Linked DNA regions of Homo sapiens. The protein of the gene in region 2 purifies or fractionates together with the protein of the main gene of each other region. This does not show direct contact. Each region holds a gene or a part of one and is shown on either strand. Other genes may lie near its edges. The genes, in order: KYAT3, PGD, TRAP1, TXNRD2, AADAT and TXNDC5.

The links.
Region 1: the proteins of PGD (region 2) and KYAT3 fractionate together in Homo sapiens (co-fractionation; one large-scale study listed by BioGRID). This does not show direct contact.
Region 3: the proteins of PGD (region 2) and TRAP1 fractionate together in Homo sapiens (co-fractionation; one large-scale study listed by BioGRID). This does not show direct contact.
Region 4: the proteins of PGD (region 2) and TXNRD2 fractionate together in Homo sapiens (co-fractionation; one large-scale study listed by BioGRID). This does not show direct contact.
Region 5: the proteins of PGD (region 2) and AADAT fractionate together in Homo sapiens (co-fractionation; one large-scale study listed by BioGRID). This does not show direct contact.
Region 6: the proteins of PGD (region 2) and TXNDC5 fractionate together in Homo sapiens (co-fractionation; one large-scale study listed by BioGRID). This does not show direct contact.

The regions. Positions count from the first base shown.
Region 1 is NC_000001.11:88,936,765-88,941,421, forward strand, and holds part of KYAT3 (kynurenine--oxoglutarate transaminase 3), read right to left. Parts: intron 1-4,657. UniProt on the Homo sapiens protein: Catalyzes the irreversible transamination of the L-tryptophan metabolite L-kynurenine to form kynurenic acid (KA), an intermediate in the tryptophan catabolic pathway which is also a broad spectrum antagonist of the three ionotropic excitatory amino acid receptors among others.
Region 2 is NC_000001.11:10,414,709-10,419,164, reverse strand, and holds part of PGD (6-phosphogluconate dehydrogenase, decarboxylating), read right to left. Parts: intron 2,179-4,456; coding exon 2,048-2,178; intron 1,790-2,047; coding exon 1,656-1,789; intron 340-1,655; coding exon 240-339; intron 1-239. UniProt on the Homo sapiens protein: Catalyzes the oxidative decarboxylation of 6-phosphogluconate to ribulose 5-phosphate and CO(2), with concomitant reduction of NADP to NADPH.
Region 3 is NC_000016.10:3,706,415-3,711,896, forward strand, and holds part of TRAP1 (heat shock protein 75 kDa, mitochondrial isoform 1 precursor), read right to left. Parts: intron 3,989-5,482; exon of another isoform or gene 3,971-3,988; intron 1-3,970.
Region 4 is NC_000022.11:19,913,744-19,919,225, reverse strand, and holds part of TXNRD2 (thioredoxin reductase 2, mitochondrial isoform 5 precursor), read left to right. Parts: intron 1-221; coding exon 222-366; intron 367-1,008; coding exon 1,009-1,083; intron 1,084-3,382; coding exon 3,383-3,461; intron 3,462-3,949; coding exon 3,950-4,012; intron 4,013-5,482. UniProt on the Homo sapiens protein: Involved in the control of reactive oxygen species levels and the regulation of mitochondrial redox homeostasis. Maintains thioredoxin in a reduced state. May play a role in redox-regulated cell signaling.
Region 5 is NC_000004.12:170,075,276-170,080,757, forward strand, and holds part of AADAT (kynurenine/alpha-aminoadipate aminotransferase, mitochondrial), read right to left. Parts: intron 3,309-5,482; coding exon 3,234-3,308; intron 1-3,233. UniProt on the Homo sapiens protein: Transaminase with broad substrate specificity. Has transaminase activity towards aminoadipate, kynurenine, methionine and glutamate. Shows activity also towards tryptophan, aspartate and hydroxykynurenine.
Region 6 is NC_000006.12:7,884,904-7,890,385, forward strand, and holds part of TXNDC5 (thioredoxin domain-containing protein 5 isoform 1 precursor), read right to left. Parts: intron 4,679-5,482; coding exon 4,592-4,678; intron 3,946-4,591; coding exon 3,802-3,945; intron 1,141-3,801; coding exon 1,058-1,140; intron 1-1,057. UniProt on the Homo sapiens protein: Protein disulfide isomerase of the endoplasmic reticulum lumen involved in the formation of disulfide bonds in proteins. Can reduce insulin disulfide bonds.

The DNA.
Region 1 (4,657 bases), about 79 Mb from region 2:
TACATATAGCATAAAATTAAACAGAGGTGTAAGCAGAGAAAATCCAGCCTTCTGTTGTTCATCTTCTGTTTCTCTACTTCTTTTTCTTTGTCTTCTCTCTCCATCAGAATGATTCAGTCTGAAAGCCAATAGGTGAGGCTGAGCAAAGCGGCTGTCCATGTATAGGGCTGGGAGAGCCTTGGCAACCCTAGTGCAGGACACTGCAGCCAGAGTGGAGTGAGCAGGCTGGTCAGCATGGGTGTCATGAGGTGATAGTGCTGGCTGGAACAGGATGTCAGAGTCTGAGTGGGGTAAGTGAGGCACCTGTATGGTAGGGTGGCCTCATGCAGGGTCCTGGAGCCTGGATGAGATGAGGCAGGCATCTGGCATGGTGTCAGTGCCCAAGAGGGGCAAGGAGGGCTTCTGTGTAGTAGGTGACAGTGGTGGCCTGGTATGGGGTATTGGAGACCTAGATGGGGGCACCTCTCCAGGAGGATGACAGGACAGGTCGGCATGGGTGATAAAGCCCAGGTCGGGTGAAGATGTAGTGTAGCAGCCTGGCACAAAATGTCAAAGCCTGAACCGGGAAAAGGGTATTCTCTCAGGGACTGGGAAGGTGAGGGATGCACAGTGGCTTTGACAGGAGATTGATCCCATACAGAAGTATTGATTAAATTAGTAGTTACATGACTAGTGGCCAAATCTGGGAAAATCTAAGTATCAAAATAAGTAATAATAATAATAAATTATAGCCCACTGTACTACAAAATAAAAATCCAGAAGTCCACATTGATACATATGAATAAGTTAATAAATAAATTGCTTAATGAGATATGGAATATTTTCATAGTACCTTACTACAAAATATTTACTATTTAACAAGAAAAAGTATAACTTTATAGTAGAAAAGACTGGCAAACACCACCTTAATCAGGTGGTTAAAGTTAACATCACTGGTAATAGGAATAAATGAAATCATGTGCCACCTGATACAATGAAAAGGATAGAGTATCATCACTTCTGTGGTTTCCTGCCGAAGTGCATAGCCTGAGTCTAAGCATGAGGAAACATCAAACTTAAATTGAGGTACTTTCTTAAAAATAATTCATTGATAATTTTCAAAAGTATCAAGATCATGAAAGTCAAAGAAAACTGAGAAACCATTCTAGCTTGAAGGAGACATGACAACTAAATGCAATGCATGATTCTAGCCTGAATTAATTAATTATTATAAAAAGGACATTATTGGGACAATGAATGACATTTAAATCAGATCTGAGGATTAGATGGAGTATCAAGGTTAACTTCATGATTTTGAGGGTTATATTGTGGTTTGGGAGGAGAATGTCTTGTTTATGAAGAATACACAAGAAAGTATATGGGGGTGATCGGAGCATCCTCAGTAATTAAGTTGACAACTTACTCTGAAATAGTTTAGAAAAAAGTTCTTGAAACTTTTAGGTTGAGAGCATTTAAAAATATTTGTTTTAAAGTAAGTCAGCTTCCCACCTATCTTCCTCAGCCACTCAGTTTTTCTCTCCAGAGACAACACTGGGATTTCATTATATATTTTTCCAGAGATTTTCATCCATCTTTCTTTTTAAAATTGTATATTTTTTATTGTTCTTGTTTATTTATTTTTAACTTTTATTTTAGGTTTGGGGGTACATGTGAAGATTTGTTACATAGGTAGACTCATGTCACAGGGGTTTGTTGTACAGATCATTTCATCACCCAGGTATTAAGAGCACAGCACCCAACAGTTATCTTTTCTGCTCTTCTCCCTCCTCCCACCCTCCACCCTCAAGGAGGCCCCAGTGTCTGTTGTTCCCTTCTTTGTGTTCATGAGTTCTCATTATTTTTGGCTCCACTTATAAGAGAGAACATGTGATATTTGGTTTTCTGTTCCTGTGTTAGTTTGCCAAGGATAATAGGCTCCAGCTCCACCCATGTTCCTGCAAAAGACATGACTTCATTCTTTTTTATGGCTGCATAGTAGTCCATGGTGTATATGTACCACATTTTCTTTATCCAATGACAGCATTGATGGGCATTTAGGTTGATCTGAATGTAGCATCATTTATTCAAGCAGCCCCCACTGGTGAATAATTTTGTTGTTTACAATATTTTGCTATTACAAATGATGCCTCAGTGAAAATCCTTGAATATAAGTCATTCGAAATGTGCAAATAAATCCACAAGAAAACACTTGTAGAGGTAGAATTGTTGGATCAAAGGGTATGGGAAATCACATCTGAACAGAAATTTTCAAACTAACCACCATAGAGATTTTACAAATTATACTCCCACTCTCAATTTGTGAGAGTGTTTTATGAAACTTTTAGTTGTTTTGGTTGTTTCCAATCTAAGAGATAAAATTTCTTTGCAGTTCTATTTTTCATTTCCCTTACTATGAAATAAGTTTGACAACTTTTATAAGTTTAACAACTACTAAGGATCTTACCCATAATATTATAAAGTGCTATTTTTGCCTTAAATTTATTTACTTTTATCACTTTTATTTTGCTCTGAATTCAAACTGCTTTCTTTCAATTTCTATTTTCTTGGTATGTTTTTGTCATTCTTTGATTTTTAGTCTTTCTAAGAGGTGGAGTTAGGTGTGTCCACTTTCCCTAGAAACTTCCAGCTACTTCCACACTATCTGCCAATATTGACTGCTGATGTAAGAAGAGTCTGGGTCCATACTGATCCTCCTCTTCTGGCCCCTCTGGAGGCCTTGATCTTACTGTCTAGGTGACCAAAGGAATTGTCTTTGAAGCCCAATATATCAAGCGAGGTATATCTCAGTGTTAATAATTGTGTGACAATTATTATTATATGCAGGTTCCATTTGTTCTGCTCTTATTTTTTTCTGGCAACTCCACATATTTTATTTTTCCTCTGCATCAATAATTTTTCTGCCTAATATTTTAAAAATTATTTGTTCCTTTCTACTTCCTTTTGCTCACTTATCTCCATCCTTAATGTCCTTACAGAAGTATTTAGTGTTCTTTGTGGTGTTTCTATTAATAATGTCACCATAATTTCCAATAGCTTTATTTTTTCTTTTCAATTTCCTACCTGAACTCTGATAGCTCCCATTTGATCTTCTTATAATATCTTACTCTATCTTCCCTGAATTCGTAAAATCTCTGCTTTCTCATTTTAAAGGTTTTAAATCTGAAATAGCACTAATTTTATTTGCTCCATGGCAACATTTTTTTTGGGCGAATATTCTCTAACACTTGTTTTTCCTTGTACCTTTCTCTTTTCCTTATACTGTCCTATATAGATTCACAGTTGGTTCCTCTTTTATTATTATTATTATTGTTATTATATTTTTTGAGACAGAGTCTGACTCCATCACCCAGGCTGGAGTGCAGTGGAGCAATCTCAGCTCATTGCAACCTCTGCCTCCTGGGTTCAAGTGATTCTCATGCCTCAGCCTCCCAAGTAACTGAGATTACAGGCATGTGCCACCATACCCACCTCAATTTTTTGTATTTTTAGTAGAGATGGGGTTTCACCATGTTGGCCAGGCTGGTTGTGAACTGCTGACCTCAAGTGATCCTCCTGCCTCGGCCTCCCAAAGTAATGGGATTACAGGTGTGAGCCACCGCACCTGGCCCCTCCTCTTTGATTATTAATCATTTTTGATTGAATTCTTTGTTTTCCACTGCCAAAGCATGCACTATACCTATTGTTCTGAGTAATAAGCATGCTACCTGCTGGCTTTGTCTGTGATTTGAAGATAGATTTGCTGATTTGTATAAGGGAGAAGCTGGGGCAGCACCAGAAAAGAGCAGAAATTCTCCTTGTCTCATAGTAAAATTTAATACAGTTGATGTAGGGTTCAGTGGGTGGGAGTTCTTTTAGACCACAGTTCTTACCAAATAATTAAATTGGCTATCCCCAGTTTAATACATCTCTTCCGCATTGCTTCAACATAGCTTTTAGCAAAATGACAGGAGTAAATGAGGAAATCTATAGACCAACCAGAGTCTCCTTTCCACCTTGCCTTACATAGTTTCCAGATGACATGACTGTATGTTTTTGCCGTTTCCTCCATCATGCCAAACGGTCTAGAGAAGTTCCTGCTGCCAGTGCAGCGACTGCTCCTACTGTTCTCAATAATGAGTATGCTGCCTGCTGGCTTTGTCTGTAATTTGAAGATGTAAAAGCAGGATCCTTTCTAGGGATCTTCCCTCTACCATCACCTTCACAGTATTTAGCAGCCTTTCCTTAAACACTGGGGAATTTGTTTTCTATTCTCTTAGTTGTTTTTAAATAATTTCTAAAAAGAGATTAGGGGAGGGCTGGGTTTACCATTTTAAAACTGGAAGTCCTACGTTACTTCTTTCTTCTGTTAGTTTTGTTTACAATTTCAAATAATATACCACTATTTCTCAATCCAGTGTAAGATGAAGGATATTAATAGCATTACCGTTCTTTAAAATTTCAGTCAATTGAATGTTTACATTGTTAGGTTGTTAATATTTATATTCTATTCTGAGCAAGTCTGGCTATCGGTTGTCTCTGAAAGTTGAAAACAGTGTTTATGTTATTCTCATTAGGTTTAAAGATGAGTGAGTTGATAGAGTGTCTTGATCTCAGTAAGACTATTTTCAGTACCAACAACATTTTGAAAACAGCAGTAACACACTTGGAACCTTTTAAA
Region 2 (4,456 bases):
ATGTTGGCACACCTGTAGTCCCAGCTACTTAGGAAGGCTGGGGCAGGAGAATCGCTTGAACCCAGGAGGCGGAGGTTGCAGTGAGCCAAGATCATGCCACTGTACTCCAGCCTGGGTGACAGAGCGAGACTCTGTCTCAAAAAAACAAAAAACCAAAAAAAAAAAACAAAAAACCAAACATCACAACTGATGGCCCCAGGGAGGTAGAGTAACCATGGCACCAGCCCTAGGCTACATACCTGGCAGTTTTCAACAGCTGACTTAAAGAAGTCGTCCAGTAGGAGGTTCTGAAGTTCCGGGTTTCGATCAAATGCATCCTTTATCTTTCCTAGGAATACACTGAAATAATCAAGGGGGGAAAAAAGCAATGAGTCTTTTTTTTTTTTTTTTTGAGACGGAGTCCCGCTTTGTCACCAGGCTGGAGTGGAGTGGCACGATCTCAGCTCACAGCAACCTCCACCTCCCAGGTTCAAGCGATTCTCCTGCCTCAGCCTCGCCAGTAGCTGGGATTACAGGCACGCACCACTACAACCGGCTAATTTTTGTATTTTTAGTAGAGACAGGGTTTCACCGTGTTAGCCAGGATGGTCTGGATCTCCTGACCTCGTGATCCGCCTGCCTCGGCCTCCCAAAACGCTGGGATTACAGGTGTGAGCCACCGCGCCCGGCCAAATGCAATGAATCTTAACTCTAACAGGGAAGTAAGCTGGAAGCCGATGTATACCCTAGTGAAACAAAGTTACATTTCTCATTTCTTCAAGCTGTTAACCCTTTTCCTGTTTAGAAAAAAAGTGCAGCTCGCTGCCAGCGCTCATTTAATTTTACATAAACACGCTTTTTGAGGCTGAAGAAAATCTGACGATTTTCAATATGAAAATAAAATATAAAAACTATTCTTGGCGTTATTTCTAAAGAGAACTAATATTAGAATCATCTGAATCACCAGAATCATCTACTTCAGAAAAATCAGATTCATCAAATGAATCTTCAGCCAACATGAGAACGATGTAACGTCATGTGTAGAAATGCTACGTTTTCTATGATTTGGCATTTTCAATGAAAATACAGAGCAAAATTCCCAAGAGGCAAGGCCAGAGGGCACGATAGTTCACAGAAGTACTTTAAAAGGTGTAGTGTAGTAGGTGTAATGCGGAGCCGGGCGCAGTGGCTCACGCCTGTAATCCCAGCACTTTGGGAGGCTGAGGCGGGCAGATCACCCAAGGCAAGGAGTTCGAGACCAGCCTGGCTAACATGGTGAAACCCTGTTTCCACTACAAATACAAAAGAATTAGCCGGACATGGTGGCGTGCCCTTGTAATCCCAGTTACTTAGGACGCTGAGGCAGGAGAATCACTTGAACCCGGGAGGCAGAGGTTGCAGTGAGTCAAGATCGCATCATGGCACTCCAGTTTGGGCAATAAGAGCGAAACTTGGTCTCAAAAGAAAAAAAAAGGTGTAGTGTGGACAATCTAGTTACAGCAACTGAGGTACAGTGAAGAAGGGAACCACATAATCTAAGCCTATCTTGTGCCAGTGTCCAGTGATGGGGCTAAGTGCCCATCCCTGGAAACTGCTCAAGCTAAGTGTCCTAAGATCGCACTTCTGCACAGCCGTGTGAGTCCTTCCCGTCGGACCCTGGGCTGCCTCTCACTTACCTTCTAATGATGCAGCCCCCTCTCCACATCAGGGCGATGCCACCATAATTGAGAGTCCAGCCAAACTCGGTGGCTGCCTGCCTTAGCAGCATAAAGCCTTGAGCGTAAGAGATGATCTTGGAAGCGTAGAGTGCCTAAAGAGTGACACAGAGACCTACTAGGATTGCCATTAGGAGAGTGACCGCCTTATGTCTACCAGTCTTATTCTCATCAGCAGTGGAGATCCCAGAAGGGCCAATATTCTAGGAAAACATTGTAAGTCAAGATCCAAGTCAAGGCTGAACTTCATTCCACCTGCCATCCTGTGGCCTCGAGTGTTCTCCCACCACAACCCCCACCCCCACTGCCTTCCGCAGGACCAACAAAGACCACTGCCAGGGACTGTGTCCCACCTTCCGAATGTCCTCCAGGAATGATTTCTTATCACCATCAAACTGGAACTTCTGGGGACCCTTCAGCTTTTTGCTAGCTTGAATTCTCTCATCCTTCAGAGATGATAAGCACCGAGCAAAGACAGCTTCTCCTACATGGGGAGATCGGGAAGAGGAAACAGATTACTGTCAGGCCTCTGAGCCCAAGCTAAACTATCATATCCCCTGTGACCTGCATGTATACATCCAGATGGCCTGAAGCAAGTGAAGAATCACAAAAGAAGTGAAAATGGCTGGTTCCTGCCTTTACTGATGACATTCCACCATTGTGATTTGTTCCTGCCCCACCTTAACTGAGCGATTAACCTTGTGACATTCCTTCTCCTGGCTCAGAACCTCCCCAACTGAGCACCTTGTGACCCCTCGGCCCTGCCCGTAAGAGAAAAACCCCCTTTGACTGTAATTTTCCACTACCTGCCCAAATCCTATAAAATGGCCCCACCCCTATCTCCCTTCGCTGACTCTTCGGACTCAACCTGCCTGCACCCAGGTGATTAAAAAGCTTTATTGCTCACACAAAGCCTGTTTGGTGGTCTTTTCACACGGATGCGCATGAAAATTACCAAAGTTCGCACAGCAACCAGAAGAAAGGTGGAGCAGGAAAGTCTGTTTATACAAAGAGCTGAAAGTTTCAACCTTAGGCCACAAAAGTTGACATGGATCGGAAGGAACTTTTATAAGAAGCTCTAAACAGTTAATTTGATAACTAAAACTCTTAAGACAATCTTCCAATACAAACATGAGTATTCAATCACAAAGATTAACATGAAATTCAAAAGGGAGTTTTGAGGGAAAATGAAGAGATAGAAACCACTGTTATGGCTGGGCAAGGTGGCTAACACCTGTAATCCCAGCACTTTGGCAGGCTGAGGTGGGAGGATCACTTGAGCCCAGGAGTTCAAGGCTACAGTGAGCCATGATCACACCACTGCTCTCCAGCCTGGGCAACACAGTGAGACCCTGTCTCTAAAACCAGTAAAATAAAATAAAAACCACTGTTATGTAGAATACTCAGTGTTGGTCCATGAGTAAAATTTCAAATTCAATTTAGAGGACCTTAATTTTTTTTTTTGAAGATTTTACATTGATAAGTCACATTTACGGACTCACCTCTCAAAAAAATGTTAGGTTTTTATATTTTACGGTTTTCAGTATAGCCGTAATCATTCAAGTTTAACCACTTTACTTCATTTGAATTAAAAAGTCAATGTAGTATTTTAATATTAAGACATTTAGTATTTTCAGAAAGTATTCCTTATAAAAGACTTGCTCAACTGACAACTTATAGTTAGAATAAATGACTCTTTAACCACTTTTTCCCCCATAGACAAAATGAAGTAAAATCTCAGGGAACTAACAGAGGACTTTATTTCTGAGGAAAGAGGAGCAGCTATGGCTTGAGACTGCTAACCCTACTCCAAACACACAAAAGCAGCTACCTCTCTCCTGGCCCAAATGCACACACAGGATGACTTAGCATTTCTAGAAGGAAGCTTTGTAAGATGACTGGTGCAACAGGCTATGAGGCAAACCCTTCCTGTTAGAGGGGGAGAGGGCAGCTGGAAGACTTCCCTGTTAGTTCACAAATAATGATGGCTCCCAGCAGGGGGTGGGCCCAGCCACCCTGGGGGAAGAGGTATATGGATCCACAGGAGGAGAGTAGGATTCTGAGATCCTAATACTTACACATATACTTGAGTCCGTGATGAATAAATTGCTCCTAGCTATTGGCCCCTCCCTCCTCACCTATGTTATGGCTCAGATCGGCTAAAAGCAGCCAACTTCCTTCTATACAGCACGGAACTGTAGAAACCACCGACTTTCCTCCTTACTCTGCCTTACACCACACAGTTCAATAGGGCGAGGCACAATGAACAGGGAGGTCAAAAGGGGAGAAGAGTCAAGGGAGAGAAAGGCAACCTGTATCCAGAGGAGCAAACAGGAAAAATTCTGTTTTATTATTTTTGAGATGCTTCTTTTTTTTTTTTTAGGCGGAGTCTTGCTCGGTCGCCCAGCCTGGAGTGCAGTGGTGCGATCTCAGCCCACTGCAAATTCCGCCTCCCAGGTTCAAGTGATTCTCCTGCCTCAGCCTCCTGAGTAGCTGGGATTACAGGCACGGGTCACTATGCCTGGCTAACTTTCGTATTTTTAGTAGAGATGGGGTTTCGCCATGTTGGTCAGGCTGGACTCAAACTCCTGACCTCGTGATCCGCCCACCTCGGTCACCCAAAGTGCTGGGATTACAGGCGTGAGCCACCGCGCCTGGCCCAATTCTGTTTTAATATAGTGAGAACAATCTGCCAGAAGCAAAGATCAGCCTCTCATTAACCACGAGAGGCATCCTTCGTTCTCCTTTTTCATTCCTGCCAG
Region 3 (5,482 bases), on a different chromosome or scaffold from region 2:
GGATTAGAAGGGCGCACCACCACTCCTGGCCTATTTGCACTCTTTTTTTTTTTTTTTTTTTTTTGAGATAGGTTCTTGCTCTTTGACCAGGCTGAAGTGCAGTGGCACAATCACAGCTCAATGTAGCCTCAAACTCCTGGGCTCGAGCAATTCTCCCACCTCAGCCTCCCAAATGGCTGGGACCACAGGCATGTGCCACCACACCCAGCAATTTTTAAAAATTTTTTTTCGAGATGGAGTCTCACTATGTTGTCCAGGCTGGCATTCAACTCTTGGCCTCAAGCAATCCTCCTGCCTTGGCCTCCTGAAGTGCTGCAATTACAGGCATGACCAACCGCACCCAGCCTCGTTTCCACCTTCTGATGGACCTTCAGATTGTTTTCATTTTCGGGTTATTATGAATAATGCTGCTATGAACATTCATGTGTAGGCTGTTCTGTGGACATGTTTTCATGTCTACAAGGTATGTGCCTCAGGGTAGAACTGTGGGGTCATATGGTAATTCGGTTTGACTGTGTGAGGAGCTGCAAGAATGTTTTCCTGCAGAGGTCGCACCGTTTTACATTCTCACCAGCAGTGTGGGAGGGTTCTGATTTTTCCACATCCTAGTTATCCATTTTGTATCACCTGTTTTTTTGTTGTTGTTTCTTTAATTTTTAATTATAGCCACCCTAGTGAGTAGGAAGTGCTAACTCACTGTAGTTTTGCTTTGCAGTTCCTAAACTGCCAGGCATCTTGAGTTTTTAAAAAAAATGATTTAAGAGGAAATCTTTTTTTTTTTTTTTTTTTGAGGCGGAGTCTCGCTCTGTCGCCCAGGCTGGAGTGCAGTGGCGGGATCTCGGCTCACTGCAAGCTCCGCCTCCCGGGTTCACACCATTCTCCTGCCTCAGCCTCCCAAGTAGCTGGGACTACAGGCGCCCACCACCACACCCGGCTAATGTTTTGTATTTTTAGTAGAGACGGGGTTTCACCATGTTGGCCAGGATGGTCTCAAACTCCTGAACTCGTGATCCACCTGCCTCAGCCTCCCAAAGTGCTAGGATTACAAGCGTGAGCCACCGCGCCCGGCCTTAAGAGGAAATGTTTCTAAACAAAATATATAACCCAAAAGGCCATAAATATAAGGACCACATAAAAATTTAAGTCAAAAGACAAACACCCGGGTGAGGTGGCTCATGCCTGTAATCCCAGCACTTTGGGAGGCTGAGGTGGGTGGATCGCCTGAGGTCAGGAGTTCGAGACCAGCCTGGCCAACATGGTGAAACCCCGTCTCTACCAAAAATACAAAAATTAGCTGGGAGTCGCAGCGGGCATCTGTAATCCCAGCTACTCCAGAGGCTGAGGCAGGAGACTTGCTTGCACTCGGGAAGCGAAGGCTGCAGTGAGCCAAGATCGTGCCACTGCACTCCAGCCTGGGCAACAGACAGAGCGAGACTCTAACTCAAAAAAAAAAAAAAAAAAGACAAACACATTAAGAAAAAAACTGGGGGCCAGGCACGACGGCTCCTGCGTGTAATCCCAGTACTTTGGCAGGCAGAAGTAGGAGGATCACTTGAGACCAGGAGTTCAAGACAAGCCGGGGCAATATAGTGGGACCCCATCTCTAAAAAAAATGTTTTTTAATTAGCCAGGCATGGTGGCACATGCTCCTTGGGAGGAAGAGGTCACAGCCACTTGGGAGGATGAGGCAGGAGTATCACTTGAGTCCAGGAGGTCAGGCCTGCAGCGAGCCAGGATCGCACAACTGCACTCCAGCCCGGATGACAAAGCAAGACCCTGCCTCTAAAATAAAATTTAGTGCCGTGGCTCACGCCTGTAATCACAGCACTTTGGGAGGTGGGGGCGGGCAGATCCCGAGGTCAAGAGTTTGAGACTAGCCTGGCCAACATGGCAAAACCCTGTCTCTACTAAAAATACAAAAAAAAACAAAAATTAGCCAGAAAGCCAGGAGCAGTGGCTCACACCTGTAATGCCAACACTTTGGGAGGCTGAGGCGGATGGATCATGAGGTCAGGAGTTCAAGACCAGCCTGATCAACATGGTGAAATTCCATCTCTACTAAAAATACAAAAATTAGCCGGGCGTGGTGACGGGTGCCTGTAGTCCCAGCTACTAGGGAGGCTGAGGCAGGAGAAATGCTTCAACCTGGGAGACGGAGGTTGCAGTGAGCCAAGATTGTACCACTGCACTCCAGCCTGGGCGACGGAGCGAGACTCCATCTCAAAATAAATAAATAAATAAATAAAAATAAATGAGCCGGGCATGGTGGCGCGTGCCTGTAATCCCGGCTACTTGTGAGGCTGAGGCGAGAGGACTGCTTAACCTCGGGAGGCGGAGGTTACAGTAAGGTGAGATGGCGCCACTGCACTCCAGCCTGGGCAACAGAGTCAGACTCTGTCTCAATTTTTTTTTTTTTTTTGAGATGGAGTTTTGCTCTGTTGCCGAGGCTGGAGTGCAGTGGTGCGATCGCGGCTCACTGCAAGCTCCGCTTCCTGGGTTCACGGCATTCTCCTGCCTCAGCTTCCCAAGTAGCTGGGACTACAGGCGCCCGCCACCATGCCCAGATAATTTTTTGTATTTTTAGTAGAGATGGGGTTTCACCGTGTTAGCCAGGATGGTCTCGATCTCCTGACCTCATGATCCGCCCGCCTCGGCCTCCCACAGTGCTGGGATTACAGGCGTGAGCCACCGTGCCTGGCCCGACACTGTCTCAATTTTTAAAAGTTATTTAAAAGGGCTAGCGCAGAGGTTACGGTGAGCCAAGATCACGCCACTGCACTCCAGCCTGGGCACCAAGTGCAAAACTCCATCTCAAAAAAAAAAAAAAAAAAAAGAAAAAGGCCATTGGTTCAAGAGAAAAATGGCCATTCACAAAAACAAGAAACATCAATGGCTTTACGTCCTAGTAAAAGATGTTTTACCACACTCATAACTAAGGAAATGCACTTTAAAACGAGATAGCATTTTCACTACCAGATTGACAGATGTTTTAAATACTGTCATTCTAGCACTGGTGAAGGTGTGAGAAACTGTTGGCAATGCCGTCTGTTATCTTGGGGAAACTCAGCAACAACCTAAATGTCCGCCATGAGAGGGTTACATAAATTACAAAACATCCTCGCTATGGAATACCAGAGCTCTGTGGCGACAGGAAACAAACCCCAGAATATAAGTGGAAAATGCAAGGTACGGAAGATTACACACGGTTCCTTCCCAGTTTACCTTTGTTTCCCTTTTTTTTGTGTGTGTGTGTGAGACGGAGTTTTCGCTCTTGTTGCCAGGCTGGAGTGCAGTGGCGCCATCTCGGCACACCACAACCTCCACCTCCCAGATTCAAGCGATTCTCCTGCCTCAGCCTCCTAAGTAGCTGGGATTACAGGCATGCGCCACCACGCCCGGCTAGTTTTGTATTTTTCGTAGAGACAGGGTTTCTCCATGTTGGTCAGGCTGGTCTCAAACTCCTAACCTCAGGTGATCCACCCGCCTCAGCCTGCCAAAGTGCTGGGATTACAGGCGTGAGCCACCGCGCCTGGCGAGAAGATTCTTAAGTACATGAACATTCTGAACAGAAAGACCTGTATTCCCTCACAAATGTCTGAGTTCTTAGCTCTGGCATTCTCAACACTCACTGTTTCTTGAGGTTTCCTGTGTTCCAGAACCTGGTCTAATCGTTCTCTACTATGATATACTGATACTTCATTCATCAGGAAACATAACTCCTTGAACATAAAGAAAAAGAACAAAAAGCGAAAGGGCACCTCGGAATAGTCAAAATATGGGCCTGAAGCCCTCACCCTGAGCTTTGCTCATGGAAGACTACTGGCCCCATATGAAATCCATCTCATTCTAACAATTTGATGCTAACAAGTTTCCCAGCCACATCTGCAAACTAGGAAAGGAGAGAACAGGGCTCCAGACAGACCTGCAAGTTAAGGCCACAGTAAGAGAGGCCAAAAATATAAACACTCACAATGCAGTTTTGATGTGGGGACACTTCATAGACGAAGGATTCTTCACATTTCAATGGCCCTACGGGAGCCTACATATTAAAACAGAAGACCAAACATTAACACCCGTAATAATGACCCTGAAAACATCCAAGAGAGGTTCAGTCATGGGCCATCAAATGATGGAGTGTTCTAGAAAGACTTCTCATCATAATGGTTAAAATGAAATGTTTTAAAGTCAGCCTCGTGGAAAATTCGCTTGAACATTCCATTGCCTGACAAATGCTGAAATACTGGCAAGTGTGAACTAACATGGCAATGTGCTGTCTTAATTTCTCCTTCGAGGTGCATATCACTAACCCGACACACATAGTTACATTAGAAGGACCCACGTCCTTCTGTCTTCTTCTCAGCAGCATTGCTGAATAGCCTCCTGCTCTTAATATGGCATTTAATTTAGCTATCTCAAAATTAATTTCTTTTATATGTGTGTGTGTATATATATATATATATATATATTTTTTTTTTTGAGACACTGTCACTCTGTCACCCAGACTGTAGTGCAGTGGCGTGATCACAGCTCACTGCAGCCTCGACTTCTCAAGGCTTAAGGGAGCCTCCCACTTCAGCCTCTTGGGTAGCTGGGACCACAGGCACACCCAGCTAATTGGAAAAAAAAAAAAAAGGGTTTTTTGGTAGAGATGGGGGTCTCTCTAGGTTGCCCAGGCTGGTCTCAAACTCCTAAACTCACAGGATCCTCCCGCCGCAGCCCCCAAAGTGCTGGGATTACAAGCATGAGCTACCAGGCCTGGCCAATTTTTTACCTTCTAGCCACATTTCTTAATTATATGGCTATGAAGTAACTGAGCCATTCCTTTTAAAACCAATGATTCAGCTACATGTCCTTTCAATCTACCCAATCTACAGGAATTCACCTGGTTAAAAAGCCAATGGCAGGGCTGGGAACGGTGGCGCACACCTGTAATCCCAGCACTTTGGGAGGCCGAGGCAGGCAGATCACAAGGTCAGAAGTTCAAGACCAGCCTGGCCAACATGGTGAAACTCTACCTCAACTAAAAATACAAAAATTAGCCGGGCACGGTAGTGCATGCCTGTAGCCCCAGCTACTTGGGAGGCTGAGGCAGGAGAACTGCTTGAACCCGGGAGGTGGAGATTGCAGTGAGCCGAGTTCGTGCCACTGCACTCCAGCCTGGGAAACAGAGCAAGACTCCATCTTGAAAAAAACAAAAAAAAAACAAAAACCAAAACAAAAACAAAAAAAACACAGGTGGCAGTAATACTCCCGCAAGTAGATACTGTTTCTCCAAGCTACAGCTTTTATGGTAATTCCTAGTGGTTTTAGCAGAAATAACCAGCCACACCACAAATAAACTCCCTGAAATCTATTTTGTTAAATGCTGTGGAACTACAGGGAAGCCACTTTGTGGACTAAGAGCAGCTTCCTAGTAGAAGGCAGGTCTTCAGTAGGACTAAGCAGGACGGTGGTAAGAAAAGTTCTAGCTGGCTACACTTGA
Region 4 (5,482 bases), on a different chromosome or scaffold from region 2:
AAAACTCCATCTCAAATAAATAAATTAATAAATATTAAAAAGTAAAAACAACTGTTTTTATTTTCGAGTACAGTTATAGAGAGCAGATTCGTGTGGCATGTCAGCTGGTCTGTGTTAGAGTTACAAAGCAACTTTAAGGAATTCCAAACACTCTAGAAGAACAGGGAAGCCTCCAGCAGTCACCTGAACATAAATTCAAATGTGCTCTTCCCACGTCCCAGGCACCCGGTGGGGCCTCGGCGGCACCTGCGTCAACGTGGGCTGCATCCCCAAGAAGCTGATGCACCAGGCGGCACTGCTGGGAGGCCTGATCCAAGATGCCCCCAACTATGGCTGGGAGGTGGCCCAGCCCGTGCCGCATGACTGGTAAGGATCTGGCGCCGTGGCATTCCAGTGCTTTTCTTCTACTCTTGGGTGGAAGAGGAAGAGGAGGCTTATCCTCGATGAGCCCTCATGGGGAGTGGGCCGTAGGATGGGTTTCTCAGCCAGGGGCGACTCTGCGCTGTCTGCCTCAGACATTTGGGAATGTCTGGAGACAGTTTTGGTTGTCACTGGGGAAGGGTTTGCTCCCCTTTGCGGGGAGCCCAGGGATGCTACAGCCATGCACAGCACAGCCCCACCAAGAACAGTGCATCTCCAAGGCCAGGAGTGCGGGTGGGAGGCCGCTTCAGCTGAGCTCTTCTGGGAAGGGGACCACGTGGCCCAGCCACACCCACATTGGCTCAGATAGGCCTCTGCCTGCAGTGGGTAGCCTTTGGGGCACAGAGCAGCTGCATCTGGAGAGCCGTGGGTCAGAGCCCCTGTTTTCTGTGAGTCCAAAGGTCTGCAGCCCTGAGCCTGGGACAGGCGGTTGCACGTAGGGATGGATGTCACGTTTTGCCACCTTTAAAAGCACTCTTGTTTTTTGATATTTCTATGAATGTACCATTTGAATCTAATAGTCCATCGTGAGGCCCTGCAGCTAACACCTGTGTTGTGGATTTTACATTTTGTTTCGTATCTTCACAGGAGGAAGATGGCAGAAGCTGTTCAAAATCACGTGAAATCCTTGAACTGGGGCCACCGTGTCCAGCTTCAGGACAGGTACTGAAGCTCTCTCCGGGAATGGGCCGCCCTCTGGGCCTTCTCTTGGGCGTTCTGTGCCTGGACACACACTTACTTACTGTGCAGAGCATGCTCTGGCAGGCTCTGGGGGTTCATGTCCTGCTCATGGGTGGGGATGAGGACAAGGAGCAGATGGGAGTGACTGTAGGGGAAGGGGAGACTGCCCTTTGCTGCTGAGCAGAGCCTGGAGGTGCTGCCAAGGAATGAGTGAGGCCACATTGGCAGAATGGCCAGAGCCCAGGGCTGCACAGGGAGGAGGCGCTTGGGGCTGGAAGGCCTCAGGCCAGAGAGCGTGGACATAGCTAGGCCTGGGGCTAATATGTGGTGAGGGTCATCCCAGTGGCAAGCCCCCACCCCGTGAACCCCCTTCTTACTGCACACCTCCAGCTCCTTGGGTGTGGGTGCAGGAGCTTGGTGCTTTCCGCTGGAGCAAATGTCCCTACTTGGTCACCGTTCCTGTCAGCCCCTGGGGATCTCCAGCACAGAGGCCTATGCTCCCCTGGCCTACAACCTTCTCCTGGGGCTCAGCTGCCAGCACAGCAGATGCCTGAAACTGGTACCGCCTCTGGCCCAGCCTTTCTCCCGGGGCTGTGGAGGGGACAGTGGTCCCGCAGAGGTCTGGTGGCTCTCCTCATGCACCATTTGCTTGGCCCCAGGGCGGGTCTTCCTGGGGCTTCACAGCAGGCAGCAGTTTTGTGCTCACTAAATCCAGGAAAGTGGAGCCAGGAAGCCAACTGCTTGCCCTCCACCTGGACCTCACAAGCTCTCCCCTATCCAGGGAGCTAAGCCACATTGTGCTGTGGCATTTCTGTGTTTCTCTGTGGGGCTCTGTATCCCCTGGTACAGTTTCCTGGGGACAGCAGGCTCTGCCCTCCCTCCTCCCTGCCCTGGGCAGCTCCTGGACGGGCACCAAACAGGCCCAGCCCACTGCCTGCTCCGGAGCCACCTGCAGAAGGAGGCTGGGGCGCACCTGGGCTGTTTCTGCTTTTTCACTCTTCTGAAAAGTGCTGCCATGAGCATTGCCCGGCTGTGTCCCGTGGCAGCTTCCTGGCTGTCGAGGTGATTGAAGGGCTCTTGCTGTAGGAACTTCACGCAGCTCAGACAGCCCATAGAGGCACAGGCTTGCCAGTGGGGAGAAGGCAGGCTCAAGCAGGAGGCAGAGCCTTCCCAGAACCCTTGCTGCAGCACGGTCCTTTTGTCATTAGAAAGTGTTGGTCGGGTGCAGTGGCTCATGCCTGTAATCCTAGCACTTTGGGAGGCTGAGGTGGGAGGATCACTTGAGCCCAGGAGTTGGAGACCAGCCTGAGCAACATAGTTTTATTGCTACATCCCTACAAAAAATAAAATGAACTAGCCAGGTATGGTTGCCCATGCCTATAGTTCCAGTTACTTGAAACAAGGCTTCCGTGAGCTATGATCATGCCACTGCACTCCAGCCTGGGTGACAGAGTGAGAAGATGTCTTTAAAAAAAAAAAAAAGGGTGGGGCGCGGTGGCTCATGCCTGTAATCCTAGCACTTTGGGAGGCTGAGGTGGGTGGATCACTTGAGGTCAGGAGTTCAAGACCAGCCTGGCCAACATGGCGAAACCCCGTCTCTACTAAAAATACAAAAATTAGCCAGGCGTGGTGGCGCAAGCCTGTAATCCCAGCTTCTCAGGAGGCTGAGGCAAGAGCTGAGGCAAGAGAATGGCTTGAACCTGGGAGGTGGAGATTGCAGTGAGCCAAGATCGTGCCACTGAACTCCAGCCTGGGCGACAGAGTGAGACTTTGACTCAGAAAAAAAAAAAAGAAAAGAAAGCGTGGGTCATTTGTTTCTGTGCACTATGCTCCCAGCCACTGTTTTGCCAGCCTTGTCATGCCCGTTCTCTTGGTGTTACCACACCCCTGAAATCAGAAGGTGACACCATCTGGTGGGCACCACAGCTCCCTGCTGGAACATGTCCGGGTGATGAGGACTGTCCCCAAGAGAGGTCCAGCCACCTCTTGCTGCACACCAGGGCTGTACGTGGCCTCTTAGGACCGTGCTGAGCTGGCTTCCGTCCCTGCTTTGACACCTGTGGTTAACATGTCCCTGGGATCCCTGGGGGACAGGCGAGGTGCCCCCACATCCCCTCCATGCTTCTCAGCATGGTTGCCGCTTACCTCTTGGTCCATCTGAGCCACAGCACCAGGCCCTGCTGGGGGCTGGAGCTCCCTTTTACCAGTGTTCCCTATTGATCCAGTTGGTGAGGTTTAATTTGCAGAGGAAGTGTTTGAAAATCTTATCTTTATCTTTCAGAAAAGTCAAGTACTTTAACATCAAAGCCAGCTTTGTTGACGAGCACACGGTTTGCGGCGTTGCCAAAGGTGGGAAAGAGGTGAGCATCTGACTTACTCGCGTGGCTCCTTGTGGACCCTTCTGCAGACCTTGGGCACCAACTGCAGCTGTGTTTGGCCTGGGTGCTGTTCTTAGTAACACGTGCTGCTGGAATCAAAAAGGTGGCTTCTTTTGAGGCTGGGCACTTGTCTTTAACGTGATCAAATAATTTGCTGCCCTGCTGCTCGGAGTGGCATGGCAACAGGGTTGGTGACCACACCCTTTTTGCAGGATTTTTTGGGGATTTGAGGGTGCCTTGAAGTGCTTGGAGTTAGAACATCTCCCTGTGCTTTCTGCCTGTCCCCCTCCTGCCAGGCTGATGGTTGATGGGATTCCAGCTCCATAGGGCCTCTGAACTGCTGGCCAAGGGTCCACGCTACAGGGCAGGGGCCGTGGGAACTGCTGGCCAAGGTCTGTGGTGCTCAGGCCCTCCGGTGGGGTGATCACCATGCACCTGTCTGACCCACGGCTTTCTCTTTTTCTCCTCAGATTCTGCTGTCAGCCGATCACATCATCATTGCTACTGGAGGGCGGCCGAGATACCCCACGCACGTGAGTGTCCCCAGAGCATAGCGTCCCTGCTGCCGTGGCCCATTCCCGGCCTCTTTGAGGGATACGTTTTTACACACGTGCTTCCCACAGCAGCAGCTTGCACACCCTTTCCCCCTATACTCACTATCATCACTTTCTGCTTTCCAATTCTCTTGAATCCACACTGCTGAAATGTGGGGTCCCCAGTGGCCTCCACGCTGCCAGATCCTCAGGACAGCTCTCGTTCTGCTCTCCCCCTGCCCCGCTGGATCTGTCCCCTTCCACACCAGGATCCTGCTTCCTAAGTCTCCATTGCTGATTCCCCCTTTTCCCTTCAGCCTCAGAATGTTGGAACATTCAGGATATAAGCCTCATTCTTCATCTTCCTCCTTCACGTCCCCCAGTTTAAAAAAAGTTTGAAATAAAATTCACACGCTATAAAATTTAGCCTTTTTTAGGGTACAATTCAGTGGTTTTTAGTACATTCACAGAGCTGTGCGGCCATCAGTCACCACCATCCATTGCCAGAACTCCTTCCATCATCCCTGAACTGAAACTATTCCCATTAAACCCTACTCCCCAGCGCCTCCTCCCCCAGCCCCTAGAAACCACCACCTACTTTCTGTCTCTATGAATGTGACAACACTAGGCACCTCGTGTAAGTGAAATCGTACATGTAAGTCCTTCTCATGTAACTGGTACGTGTGTGTCCCTTAGTGACTCGTATGTGTGTGTCCCTTAGTGACTGGCTTACTTCACTGAGCATAACATCCTCCAGGTTCACCTACATTGTAGTGTGTGTCAGTATCATTCCTTTTTATGGCTAGATACTATTCCATTGTATGGATAGACCACACTTTGTTTATCTACTTGCTTGGATAAACACATGTGTTATTTCCACTTTTTAGCTATTATGAATAGTGCCGCTGTGAACATCTGCAAAGAAGTTTTTTGGTGGACTTCAGTTTTCACTTCTCTTGGGTTACACTTAGGAGCAGAACTGCTGGGTCATGTGGTAACTTTATGTTGAATCTTTCAAGGAACGTTTCAAGGAACCTCAGACTGTTTTCCACAATGACTGTGTTTTACATTCCTTCCAGTGGGGTGTAAGGGTCATGGTTTCTTGTTTCTTCACGTATCTTGTAATTTTTTTATTGAAAGCTGAACATTTCAAATAATTTAATGCGATAACTTTGGAAACCAGATTCTCCCTCTGCCCCAGGATTCTGTTGTTACAGCTGCTTATTTGGTGACTTTTCGGAACTGACTTTGTAGACTCTTATTCTTTGATGTATGTGGCCACTGAAGTCTTTACTTGGTTAGCTTAGTGGTCAGCTAAGAACTGCATGGAGATTTCCCTAAACTAAGAACTCTCCCGGTCTTTGCTGAGGGCTCTGTGTGCGTTTGGAGGGGATGCCTTCCACACTCAACAGGCAGCAGACAGCTCTGCCCTAGCCTTCACTTCCTGCTTCTGCAGAGATCAAGGTCAGC
Region 5 (5,482 bases), on a different chromosome or scaffold from region 2:
AAAAAGTAATTATTTTATTTTAGTTTTATTGTGGTAAAATTGTTGCCATTTTAAGCCTTTTTTGTTTGTTTTTTTAAGTGACAAGGTCTCACTTTGCTGCCTGGGCTGAAGTGCAGTGGTGCAATTATGGCTCCCTGTAACACCATGCTCCTGGGCTCAAGCAATCCTTACACCTCAGTCTTCTGCCTGGTTAATTAAACAAACAAAAAAAAGTTGTAGACATGTGCTTTGCTATGTTGCCCAGTATGGGCTCGAACTCCTGACCTCAAGTAATCCTTCAGCCTCAGCTGCCCAAAGTGCTGGGATTACAGGCGTGAGCCACCTCGTCTAGTCCATTTTAACTACTTTTAGGAGTACAATTCAGTGGCATTAATTACATTCACAATGTGTGCATCCATCACCTCTGTCTATTTCCAAAACTTTTTCCTCACCCCAAATAGAGACTCTGTACCTATTAATCAATAACTCTCCATTCTCTACTCTCCCCAGCCCCTGGTAACCACTCATCTACTTTCTATCTCCACTAATTTGTCTATTCTAGATGTTTCATATAATTGGAATAATACAATATTTGTCCTTTTGTGTCTGGCTTCTTAAAGTTAAAATGCTTTCAAGGTTCATCCATACTGTAATATGTATCAGATCTGTGTTCCTTCTTATGGCTGAATAATATTCCATTGTATGTATATACCACATTTTATTTATCCATTCATCCACTGATGGACACTTGAGTTGCTTCTACCTTTTGGCTACTGTAAATAATATTGCAATGAACATTTGTATACAAGTATCTGTTTGAGTCCCAGTTTTCAATCCTTTCTGGGTATATAGCCATGAGTGGAATTGTGGGTCACATGGTAATTATATTTTAATTTTCTGAGGAACTGACAAACTTTCCCACAGTGGCCATACCATTTTACATTTCCTTCCACCAGCAGTGAATGAACCCAGTTTCTTCACATATTCACTATTTTTTTTTAAATAATAGCCATCGTGGTATGTGTGAGGTAGTATCTCACAGTAGTTTTGATTTGCTTTTCTCTATTTAAAAAAATTTTTTCCCCAAGCCTGAGTCTTGCCAAATAATCAGACTGCAGGTACAGCAGTCACACATTGTAGAGTACTAACCACTACACGATCATGGAACTTGCGGCTTTCATACGTTGATTTATGTTGCTTTGCATTTCTCTACTAATGATGTTGAGCATCTTTTATGTGCTTATTGGCCTTCTGCACATGTTCTTCAGACTAATGTCTATTTAAGTCCTTTGTCCATTTTTAAATTGGGTTGTTTATCTTTCTGTTGTTGAGTTGTAGGAGTTCTTTATATGTTCTGGTTATTAAAGGTTTATCAGATATATTATGATAAATATTTTCTCCCACTGTATAGACTCTTTTTTCACTGTTTTCATAATGTCCTTTGATACACAACCACTTTTAAATCTTCAAGTTCAATTTATCTATTTTTGTGGTTGTCGTTGCTCATATTTTTGGTCATATCTAAAAAATCCACCAAATCTAAGGTCATAAAAATTTGCCCTTATGTCCTAAGTGTTTGTAGTTTTAGCCCTTATATTTAGGTCTTTGATCCATTTTGAGTTAAATTTTCATATGGTGTGAAGTAAGGGTCCAAGTTCTTTTATATGCATGTGGAAATCCAGTTGTCCCAGCACCACAGTTGAAGAGACTATCCTTTCCCCCACTGAATGATCTTGGCACCCTTACTGAAATCAACTGGATTTGTGGGTTTATTTCTGGATGCTCAGTTCTATTCTATTGGTCTATATGATTGTCTTTATGCCAGTACCACATTGTTTGATTACTGCAGCTTTGCAGTTTTGAAATTGGGAAGTGGGGGTCTTCCAAATTTGTTCTTTTTCAAGATTATTTTGGCTATTTAGGTCCTTTAAACTCACATCAATTTGAGGACTGGCTTTTCCATTTCTACAAAAAAGGCTGTTGGCATATCGATAGGGATTGTATTGAATCTGTAAATTGCTTAGGGTAGTATTAATATCTTAACAATATTAAGTCTTCCAATCTATGAACTGTGGAAGTCTTTCCATTTATTTGAGTTTTGCTTAATTTCTTTCAGCAAAATTTTTCAGTTTTTAATGTACAAGTCTTCCACCTCCTTTGTTAGATTTATTCCTACGTATTTTATTCTTTTGGATGCTATTACAAATGGAATTGTTTTATATATTGCTTTATATGTTGATTTTCATAAAAATAAAATAAAATTTGAAAAAAATAAAAGGATCCATGAAGTTGGAATCAATAGAGCATAAAAGTCATCGCATTGAATTCCCCTACTCTAAGCTAGAATTACTTTAGCCATATTTGTGTTAGGTGGCAGTCAAGAGTGACTGAGCACCTACAGTGATGGGCAATGTTGTAACCCATTATGAAGTCCGGTAAGGCCAATGGTTAGCAAGTTCTTATACAGAGCTGAAATTGTTTCCCTGTGGTTCCAGTTCTATTAACCTAAGGTCATGTACAAATAAATCTAATTCTTTTGTCACATGGCTAACTTCTATGTATTTGAGGACAGTTTTCATGCCTCTGTTGAGTCTTTTCTTTCTGGGGAAAATAGCTCCAGTTCCTACAACCATTCATCATATGATATGGCTTCCAATTCCCTATTTACTCTGACTATCTTTCTCTGAGTATGCTCCAGTTGTGGACATTTCTGTCTTAAAGTAGACTGCCCCAAACAAACCTAATGCTCAGCAATGTGCTCTGACCAGTGCAGAGCAGAGTCAGATCATCAGCTTCCTCATTCTGTAAATCACAGTTCCACGGATCTAACCTTGGAATGGAAAGTCGTCATTATACCATATAAGTATACTAAACTGACATATAACATAGTTGTACTTATGCATATGGTAATAAGATAGTAATAAAAAATAAATTTTTGTAATTTAAGTTACATTTCAAGTAAAATATTAAGAGAATTGGACATGATTTTGCATAATCTAATTTTAATGCCTATACACTTGGATTTCAAAAAAGAAATGTATAAAGAAGAGAATACATTTCACATACTTTGTATATATCCTTTAAGATTATCCTGCTTATGGATAAAATATGCTATTTCATTTTTCTGTGGACAGATTATTTTAAAGTTAATAAGATATTAACTTTATTATAATAAAGTTATTATAAAACCTTTATTATAAGTTTTCTTCTTATTTACTACAAGAGAGTTGCCTTTAGTAAAAATGTATACTCACACTTTGAAGAGTTCCTGAATAAGCAGGTTCATCTAGGAGGACATTATCTCCAGGATTAATGATCATTTCAAACACCTAACAAAAGAAGCATAGGTTAGCTTGTTAGTCAGCATAGGTTAGTACTGTTTCCATGCTCAGAAGCCCATTTTTTAGTTTGAGCTCACATGGTTCTAGAGTAAGAATTAGCAAATTGTTTATAAGGGGCCAAACAGTAAACACTTTGCGGGTCATAGTATCTCTGTTGCAACTACCCTGCAACTACTCTGCCTCTATAGTGAAAAAGTAGCCATAGACAATATATAAATGAATGGGTGTGACTGAGTTCCAATAAAACTTTATTTACAAAATTTGATGAAGGGCTGGATTTGGCTCTCAAACCATAGTTTGCCAACTCCTGTTCCAGAGAAAGGTGAACAGAGGTTTGGCTGCTAACATTCATTTATTCCTTTTATTGCTTCTTTGAAAATCTATTAAATGTTTACTATACGCCAGGCCTGTGTAAAGTGTCAGAGATAAAATAGCAAAATGACATGGTTCTTACTCTCATGGAGCTACTGGTCCACTGGGAAAGCTAGACACCAATTAAATAACTACCCAATAAATGTGCAAATTAAAAACGGTGGTGAGTGATATTAAGTACAGATGCACAATGACATAAGAGCTCATTGTAGGAAGACCTAGGCATTCAGGGAATTCAGGGAAGGCATCCTGGAGGAAGCGATGAGTTGGTGTACGGGGTAACAACAGTTAGATTTGAAAAACCAAAATAATTATGTGTCTTGAGGCAGAATGTAGAGAAAAGAGTGGTGTGACATCAGACAGAAGTGGGCAGAGACCAACCATGTAGGCATTTGAGCCAAGGGAGGCAAGTAAGGATTTTAGGAAGAGAGTGGGGAGGAGGAGTCACATGATTAGATACTCGTCTTGAAAAGATCAATCTGGCTGCAGTATGAAAGAATGAAAGAAGGGTGAGAATACATGTGGAAAGTTTAGAAAGTTTTTAGGATTGTTTGGGAAGTTACTGCCACAGGCCTGGAACAGGTAAGGGTCATCTTAAAGTAGAGTGGTGACAGAGGAATTGTAGAGAAGAACTGAGAGGTATTAGGAAATGAAAAGTAATGGAACATGATTATGGACAATAGGGAAATGAGGAAGAGGAGGTGTCAAGAATGATGCCTAGATACTTGGTTATGGAACTAGATAGATGGTGGGGGTGGTGCCATTCACTGAAACACATAACCAAAAAGCCATCCATATCTGAGTGACAGGATGATTTGTTTTAGTGTGAGGTGCCTTTGAAACACCCTGTGATGATGTCAGATGGATAGATGGACAAATGGATTTGGAAGGAGCCTGGAAGTTACTGGCATATGGTTGATCATGTGAATGTAAATGAAGATACCCAGGAAAAGTACATAGACTAAGGAGAGATGTTTAAGGACTGAGCTACAGGGAACTCCAATAAATAATGGCTGGGTAGAGGAGGACACTGCAAGGAAGGGAGGGAAAGTGGGCTGGAGGAGAACCACACAACATGCTACTGAGAGAGCTAGAGGAGGACAGTGTTTTCAAAAGGGTGGGGGAGACTTCCAGTTCCAAAATGGTGGTGTAGAAGCAAGTTGACTTCATTCCCTCCCACAAAACCACTAACAAATATACAGTGCTAAAATTTACACCAGAAACAACCCAGAACTCAAATATGAGGATGAGTCAGTTCCTAGGACTACAGAGAAGTGAAAAAACTCTGAACAGATGGTAAGAAAGGCATACTTCAGCATCTATGATACCCCTCCTCCCAATTCTGCCTGGCACCAAGCACGTGGAAAAACTCCCCCTAATTCACGGCTTCTACACTGGAAAAAGTGAGATTGAGGTGGCCAAGAGTTTTCCCCACCATCTTTGGTTCCCTGGCTGGAGACCTGTCCTTGCCTTTAACCCTTTGGAAGCATCATGACTGCCTGGAGGGAAAAACATCCCTGAGGACAGGCAGAGACAAAATCGGGAGGCAGGACTACCATCCCAAGCCCTGGAAACTCTGCACTGTAACTCAGCGAAAGGCATGCCAAAACAGAGTGACTGTTCAGCAGCACCACACTGCAGGAGGAATGTTCCAGAGGTTCCTGGGTATAATTCTTTTGCTAGCCATCTCATGCCAATGGAATAAATCCTTTGGGACCTCCCTGATTTGGGACAGGCTGTTCTCGAATTATTTACTAAACCTGGACTTAAGGTGCCACCTTGGAAGATGC
Region 6 (5,482 bases), on a different chromosome or scaffold from region 2:
CAAAACCATTTTAAGGCCTCCTTGGTACTTCAGCGATGTGGGGTGAGCATCAAGGCCATGATTAAGTTTGGTTCAAACCCTCCCTTCTACCCGACTCTGTTCCCTTGTCTCTTCTGACCCCCTCCTGCCGTATGGATGGCTCCCCTTCAGCCAAAGGGGATCCTCCTTTTTGATACTTGATCTGTGGAGCTTTAGGTTTTTAAATGTTGCAAATGATTTGAAAGGCATTGCTATGGTTCGTTCAAGTCCTGTGCTTATTAACTTTTTACCCCTATGGTTAGTTTCTCAGGAACATGTGGAGTGTAACAAACAAGAAAAGTGACGCCTTTATCATGTTTAGATAAACAATCTACTGTTGTCCTAACACTCTGCTTTTCCAAATGGATTGTTTTATTTGTGAAGACAAAAAGTTACTCCCATTTTTCAGCTGAGGGAACTGGGGTTCAAAGGAATTAAAGGACATCCAAGTTTACTATACAGTCATTCACGGTAAGTCTTAGAACCAAGGTTGTCTGGATCTCACACTACCTGCAATCCATTTCTGCTCTGGTCTCCAAGACCACGTGGCATGCAGGTTCAGGAAACTGCGTAGCATACTGAATGGCTCTAACAGACTCTACTGGATTTCTCTACAAAAGAAATCCGAGTACTTAAAAGAACCGAGGAGCAAAGCTACATCATGACACTCATTGTTTAGCCAAAAAGAAAAGCCATCTATTTGGAAAAGTGCAGATACCACAAAACTGAATATGGCCATCATAATTTGCCTCCATTTTTATGTTTTCTCCAAAGTTGATATAACTTTAGCCTCATTCTCCATATATAATCAAAGTTGATATAACTGTAGCCTCATTCTCCATATATAATTAAGGCCATTGAAGTTTAAAATATTTGAATATAGGAGCATGATAACGGTTCCTTATTTCCTACAACATGACCTACATATAAATGTAACATGTGCCCAACATTGAGTCTGGAGGGGTGGCAGATGAGCTGAAAAACATGATGTGACTTAGTACACATGGACAAAGTAGTTTCTAATTAAACAGCCACTTACCATGGAGCATAAAACTTGATGAAGGTTATTCCTTCTGCAATGGTGTCATCGAAGTTATTTTCAGTGAGTGCCAACACAGTGCCCTTCAAGGGAGGAAAAAGCCACAGTTCAAGTACATCCCTTAAAGTTGAGCAGGGCCATGCTTTGGGATTGCAGATACACGAATCAGTAATTTTTTAAAAATGCAGTTACGTAGGCTCCAAGGTCACACAGAAATACCTACACAATCTGCATTTCATAGGCTACACACAAAGGGAGGCTGGCAGCCTCTGAAGGGCAGAGAGATCAATGCAAGTCCCTGGGTCCCAAGCCTGGGAGATGTGGTGAGGAGGTGGCTGGACACTGTACAGGGGATGAAGGTGGGGAGGGGGACTGTCTTTTGGGGATGAGGCAGGTTGAAAACTCTCCAGGGCGCTGTGGTGTGGACCAGGCAGCCCTGGGTGTCTGACACTTGAGTCTGCACCTCTAAGCCTGGAGTCTCCAGGATACCCACTGAAGTCTCATCCTCAGCCGCTTTTCTCACTGGCCACCCTATTCTCCTAGCACCCTTTGTGACATCCTCTCTATGCAACAGAAAGAACCTAGTTACAATAGCAAAGGCAATGATACCTGTTTTACATTGAACATAAAAATGGAAAGCAGCCTGTTCTAAGTCAATGTGAAAAACGCTGATGGAAGCTCTGGCTGGAGAATTTAAGGGAAAGGTGCTACATGGTAGTCTGCTTTAAAGCCATTCTCCCTTGACAGTTCTTTACAGAATGACGTCTATGTGTTTCTCCAAAAATGGATCTGCGATTCTCTCCTGAGAGCAGGAATGGGATGATTTATCACGTGGCTAAGTGTACCAGGGCTGCTCCATTTGAGTCTGGCATCGAGTAACATGTCAGTGACGGAGGCCAAGGGGGCCACTGTGGAACACTACCATCTTTATGTCCAGAAACATGACGCCACACGCACTGAAAAGACCCACTTCATGGTGGAAAACTGCATTATAAATAGAAATGGTGCTGCGATGAAAACATCCGTGGTATATAATTATACTCAATTTGGGATGACCTTTGTAACCACCATGACACATACACTCCTCTAACATAAGTGGTCCTGACAACTACAAAATCAGCTGTTTACTTCTTCAACCAAAACGTCAACTTTTAAACAACACTCAGGCCATCCCCGACCTACAAGAGCCCAACTAGGGACAGGGTTGTAGGGGTGAGGAGGCCTGGTGTGGCCCCACCAGGGAGGAGGGGTTGGTGGCCCCACTGGTTTTTCCAAATCCAAACTCCTGGCCTTCAGGCATGACTTCTACCTGAAGAGGATGACACGGGCACTCTCGTCCAGTGCAGACCTCCTGCCGCAGCCCCAGGCTCATGGTTGGAACTGCCACTGGACACTGCCACCTACACAGCCGAAAGCCTTGAAGATCAACACCTTGAAAACCAAGCTCATCCCTTTCCTCGAGCTCTGGCCCCGCCCCTGTGCTGGGTACCATCCTCCACCAGATATGCGGGAATCAGACTCGCCTCGGACCCTCCCTCCCTCTCCGCGCTGCACAGCGGCTGGACTCCTTATGCTGGCTTTCTCCTCCTCGCCATCGCACAGTCACGGCTGCAGCATGAGGGAACGCATCATCTTTAAAGGCCTAATAGAGCAGCTTCCCACCTCCAGCACACGTGCATGCCGGTCATTTTCCTACAACTCCAATCTGCACAGAGCCTCCATGGGCTCCCTGTCAATATGGGATACAGTTCCTAATCCTTGGCCAGCTGCCCACAGACTCTCAACTCCAGCTCCTCTCTCACTCTCAGGGATCCTACACCACACCCTGACCTGTCTCCCACTGTGTTCCCCCAGCCCCAGCTCTGGCCCTGCAGAAATGCCGGCTGATTCTCGGGTTGTGCCTCTCCTGGTGCAGCCCCTCAGTGGCAGCCCTGCCCAGCCTATCTGTCCAGCACAGATCCCGTCAATCAGCTCCTTAGGGACACTTCTTGCCCATTTGCCCCCACTTCTCTCTAGCAGCCAAGCCCTGCACACATTTCTGCCCCAGCCCCCTGCCATTGGCTTGTGTGTCTTCTCACCATTTGCCTCAGAGACCTGTATGCTTCAGAGGCAGGAAACCGGTCTTATTTTTATTCCCTGGTGGCCTAGAACAGTGCCTGTGACATAACAAGGGCTTCATAAAGCAGAACAAATGAATCTGAAACCTCCTGCTACCTGAGTGAAGGAAGGAAGCCCCTCAGTGCATCAGGACTGCCTAGGCAGGTTACAGCTACAGTCACTGGCCTGATCGCTGCGGATGCCCTCTTGGCTACAGGTCTTCTAGGGGCCTTTACAACGGGTAAAGGAAAATGCCCGGAGCAAGGTCAGGAATAGAATCAGGGCCCCGGGGCCAGCAGTCGAGATTTCATAGCAGAAACATGCCCAGCAGAGTCATTCTTTAAAATGAATGAAGCGGAAAGGAAGGATTCTCTAGAGATTTTTGACACCAAATATTGTCTTGGGATTTGTCTCACATCCATTTCATGTTTTCAAAAGGAAAGCTTTTGTTTGCATTCGCCCCTGAAAGCATGTGAAAGTCGATGAAAAATACGTGTTGAAAACGCAACTGGAGCCAACCATCAGATGACTGTGTCCCCAAACTGTCATTTTGTCCAAAGCATTTGAGGAGGCCTCTGAGGGTGGGGAGGTGGGGGGCCGGGGGCCACGGGCCACTTATGGGGATCCCGACTCCAGCAGGCACCCACCTTGTCAGCCTCGGGCTCAGCTGCCAGCACCGGGGCCTCTGAGGGCGTGACGGTCTCCGTCGCTCCAGTCTCTGTGCGCTGCAGCTGCGACTCCACGTACTCCCTCAGTGACTCCAAATCCCGCTTTCCCTTGTACTGATCCACCTGGCCAAGACACGGGCACGCGGCTGAGTGAGTCCACTGAGGTGTTCTGAATCACTTAAGCCTTCCTGCAACCCCTGCTTGCCCGGGTCAGAGCTCCCAGATGTCTTAGCGGTGGTGCAAAGTCTGCATGTTCATATTTAGACGGGAATGTAGAGAGGATAACTGAATGCCTCGGCTTTGGTGAGAGAACTGTACAGGCCCCTCTTCCCTCCACGGGGTTACACATCACAGAAGTCTGGGGCAGAGGCCTGCCAGCAAGCCGTTGTGCTGATGGGGAACTCTGAGCTGCTGACCATCGGCCAGGGAAGGAGGGAGGGAGGCAGGCAGAACCGGACCAAGTGCAAGCCTTAGCTCTGTTCAAAGGCCTGAAGGTTTGTGTTTACAACCAGAGCACAGTTACCCTGTGACTGTAAGATGTGGGTTATTCTAGTGATAACCTGGGCCACTGAAATGTTTCAAGGTTCATCTCCACAACCCAAATCTTATCAATTAAGAGAAAGACGTTTGTTTCATTATACACATTTCTCCAAACCAGTGCCCTAACAATCAAGATTGGCAATTCACTGTGCCCATTAAACCACTCAGTAGCTCAGCCTGATGGGGTTAAGAGATGAAGAATTCTCAGTACTAAGAAGTGCAGACGTACCTTTTTCCCATCTCGGAACCAGAGAAGAGTGGGATAGCCACGAACCTGGTTTCCGGAGCAGAGTTCATAGTGCTGTGTACAATCAACCTGAGAATAAAAGCAGATCAACTTCCCAGTCAGTTTCTTCATGAACCTTCTTGCTAATGGGGCTACTGGACACTTTGTACGTTACAAATATTCTTTTCAAAATCCACATTCTGTAGCAACTCTGCCAGCAAGGTGCAGTTTTTGAAGAGAATGTTCCTGAAAGCTATGCTAAAACATACCTGAGCTAAAAGGAGTAAAGGAAAGACTTTAGAGGCAAGATTTATTGTATTAATAGCTCAGTTAAACATGCCGGTTTTTAGGAAGCAACATTTTAACTCGAGCAAGTAAAGTCAGCACCTGGTAGCTTGAGTCAGGGCCCTGGCTTGACATTTGGTGGTGGTGGGAGGGGGGTTAGCCTGGCTGTCGGTGACTGGGACCCAGACCAGTTCACATGCCAGCTTAGAATTTACTCTCATGCTGAAGCTTAGAGGGTTTTAAAATCAACAGGGAGCAAGAAGTGAATTTTAAACAGGAGTAGTTGGTATATAATAAAGGTAAGACTGCAAAGATGTCAAGATTATAATCCGTCCTTAATTTTATAAACTTAATTTACCAACAAGCACAGCTCTTCAAGCTTTTTCTTTCATTTAAATCTCATAAAGCTGCTGCTTGCCCAACATTTTCATGAAACATCTTGTTCTAAGTCATTGCTTTCTTTTTTATTTTCTACCAGCACTAAAATAGGCAGGACTAAGTTGTTATTCACTATGTCAGCAAACGGGGGTAAAAATACTATTTCAACACCTAAGACCCGTCAGAGAGCAGCTAAGGTGCGGAACTGAAGTACAAGAGGCCTCAGCCCAA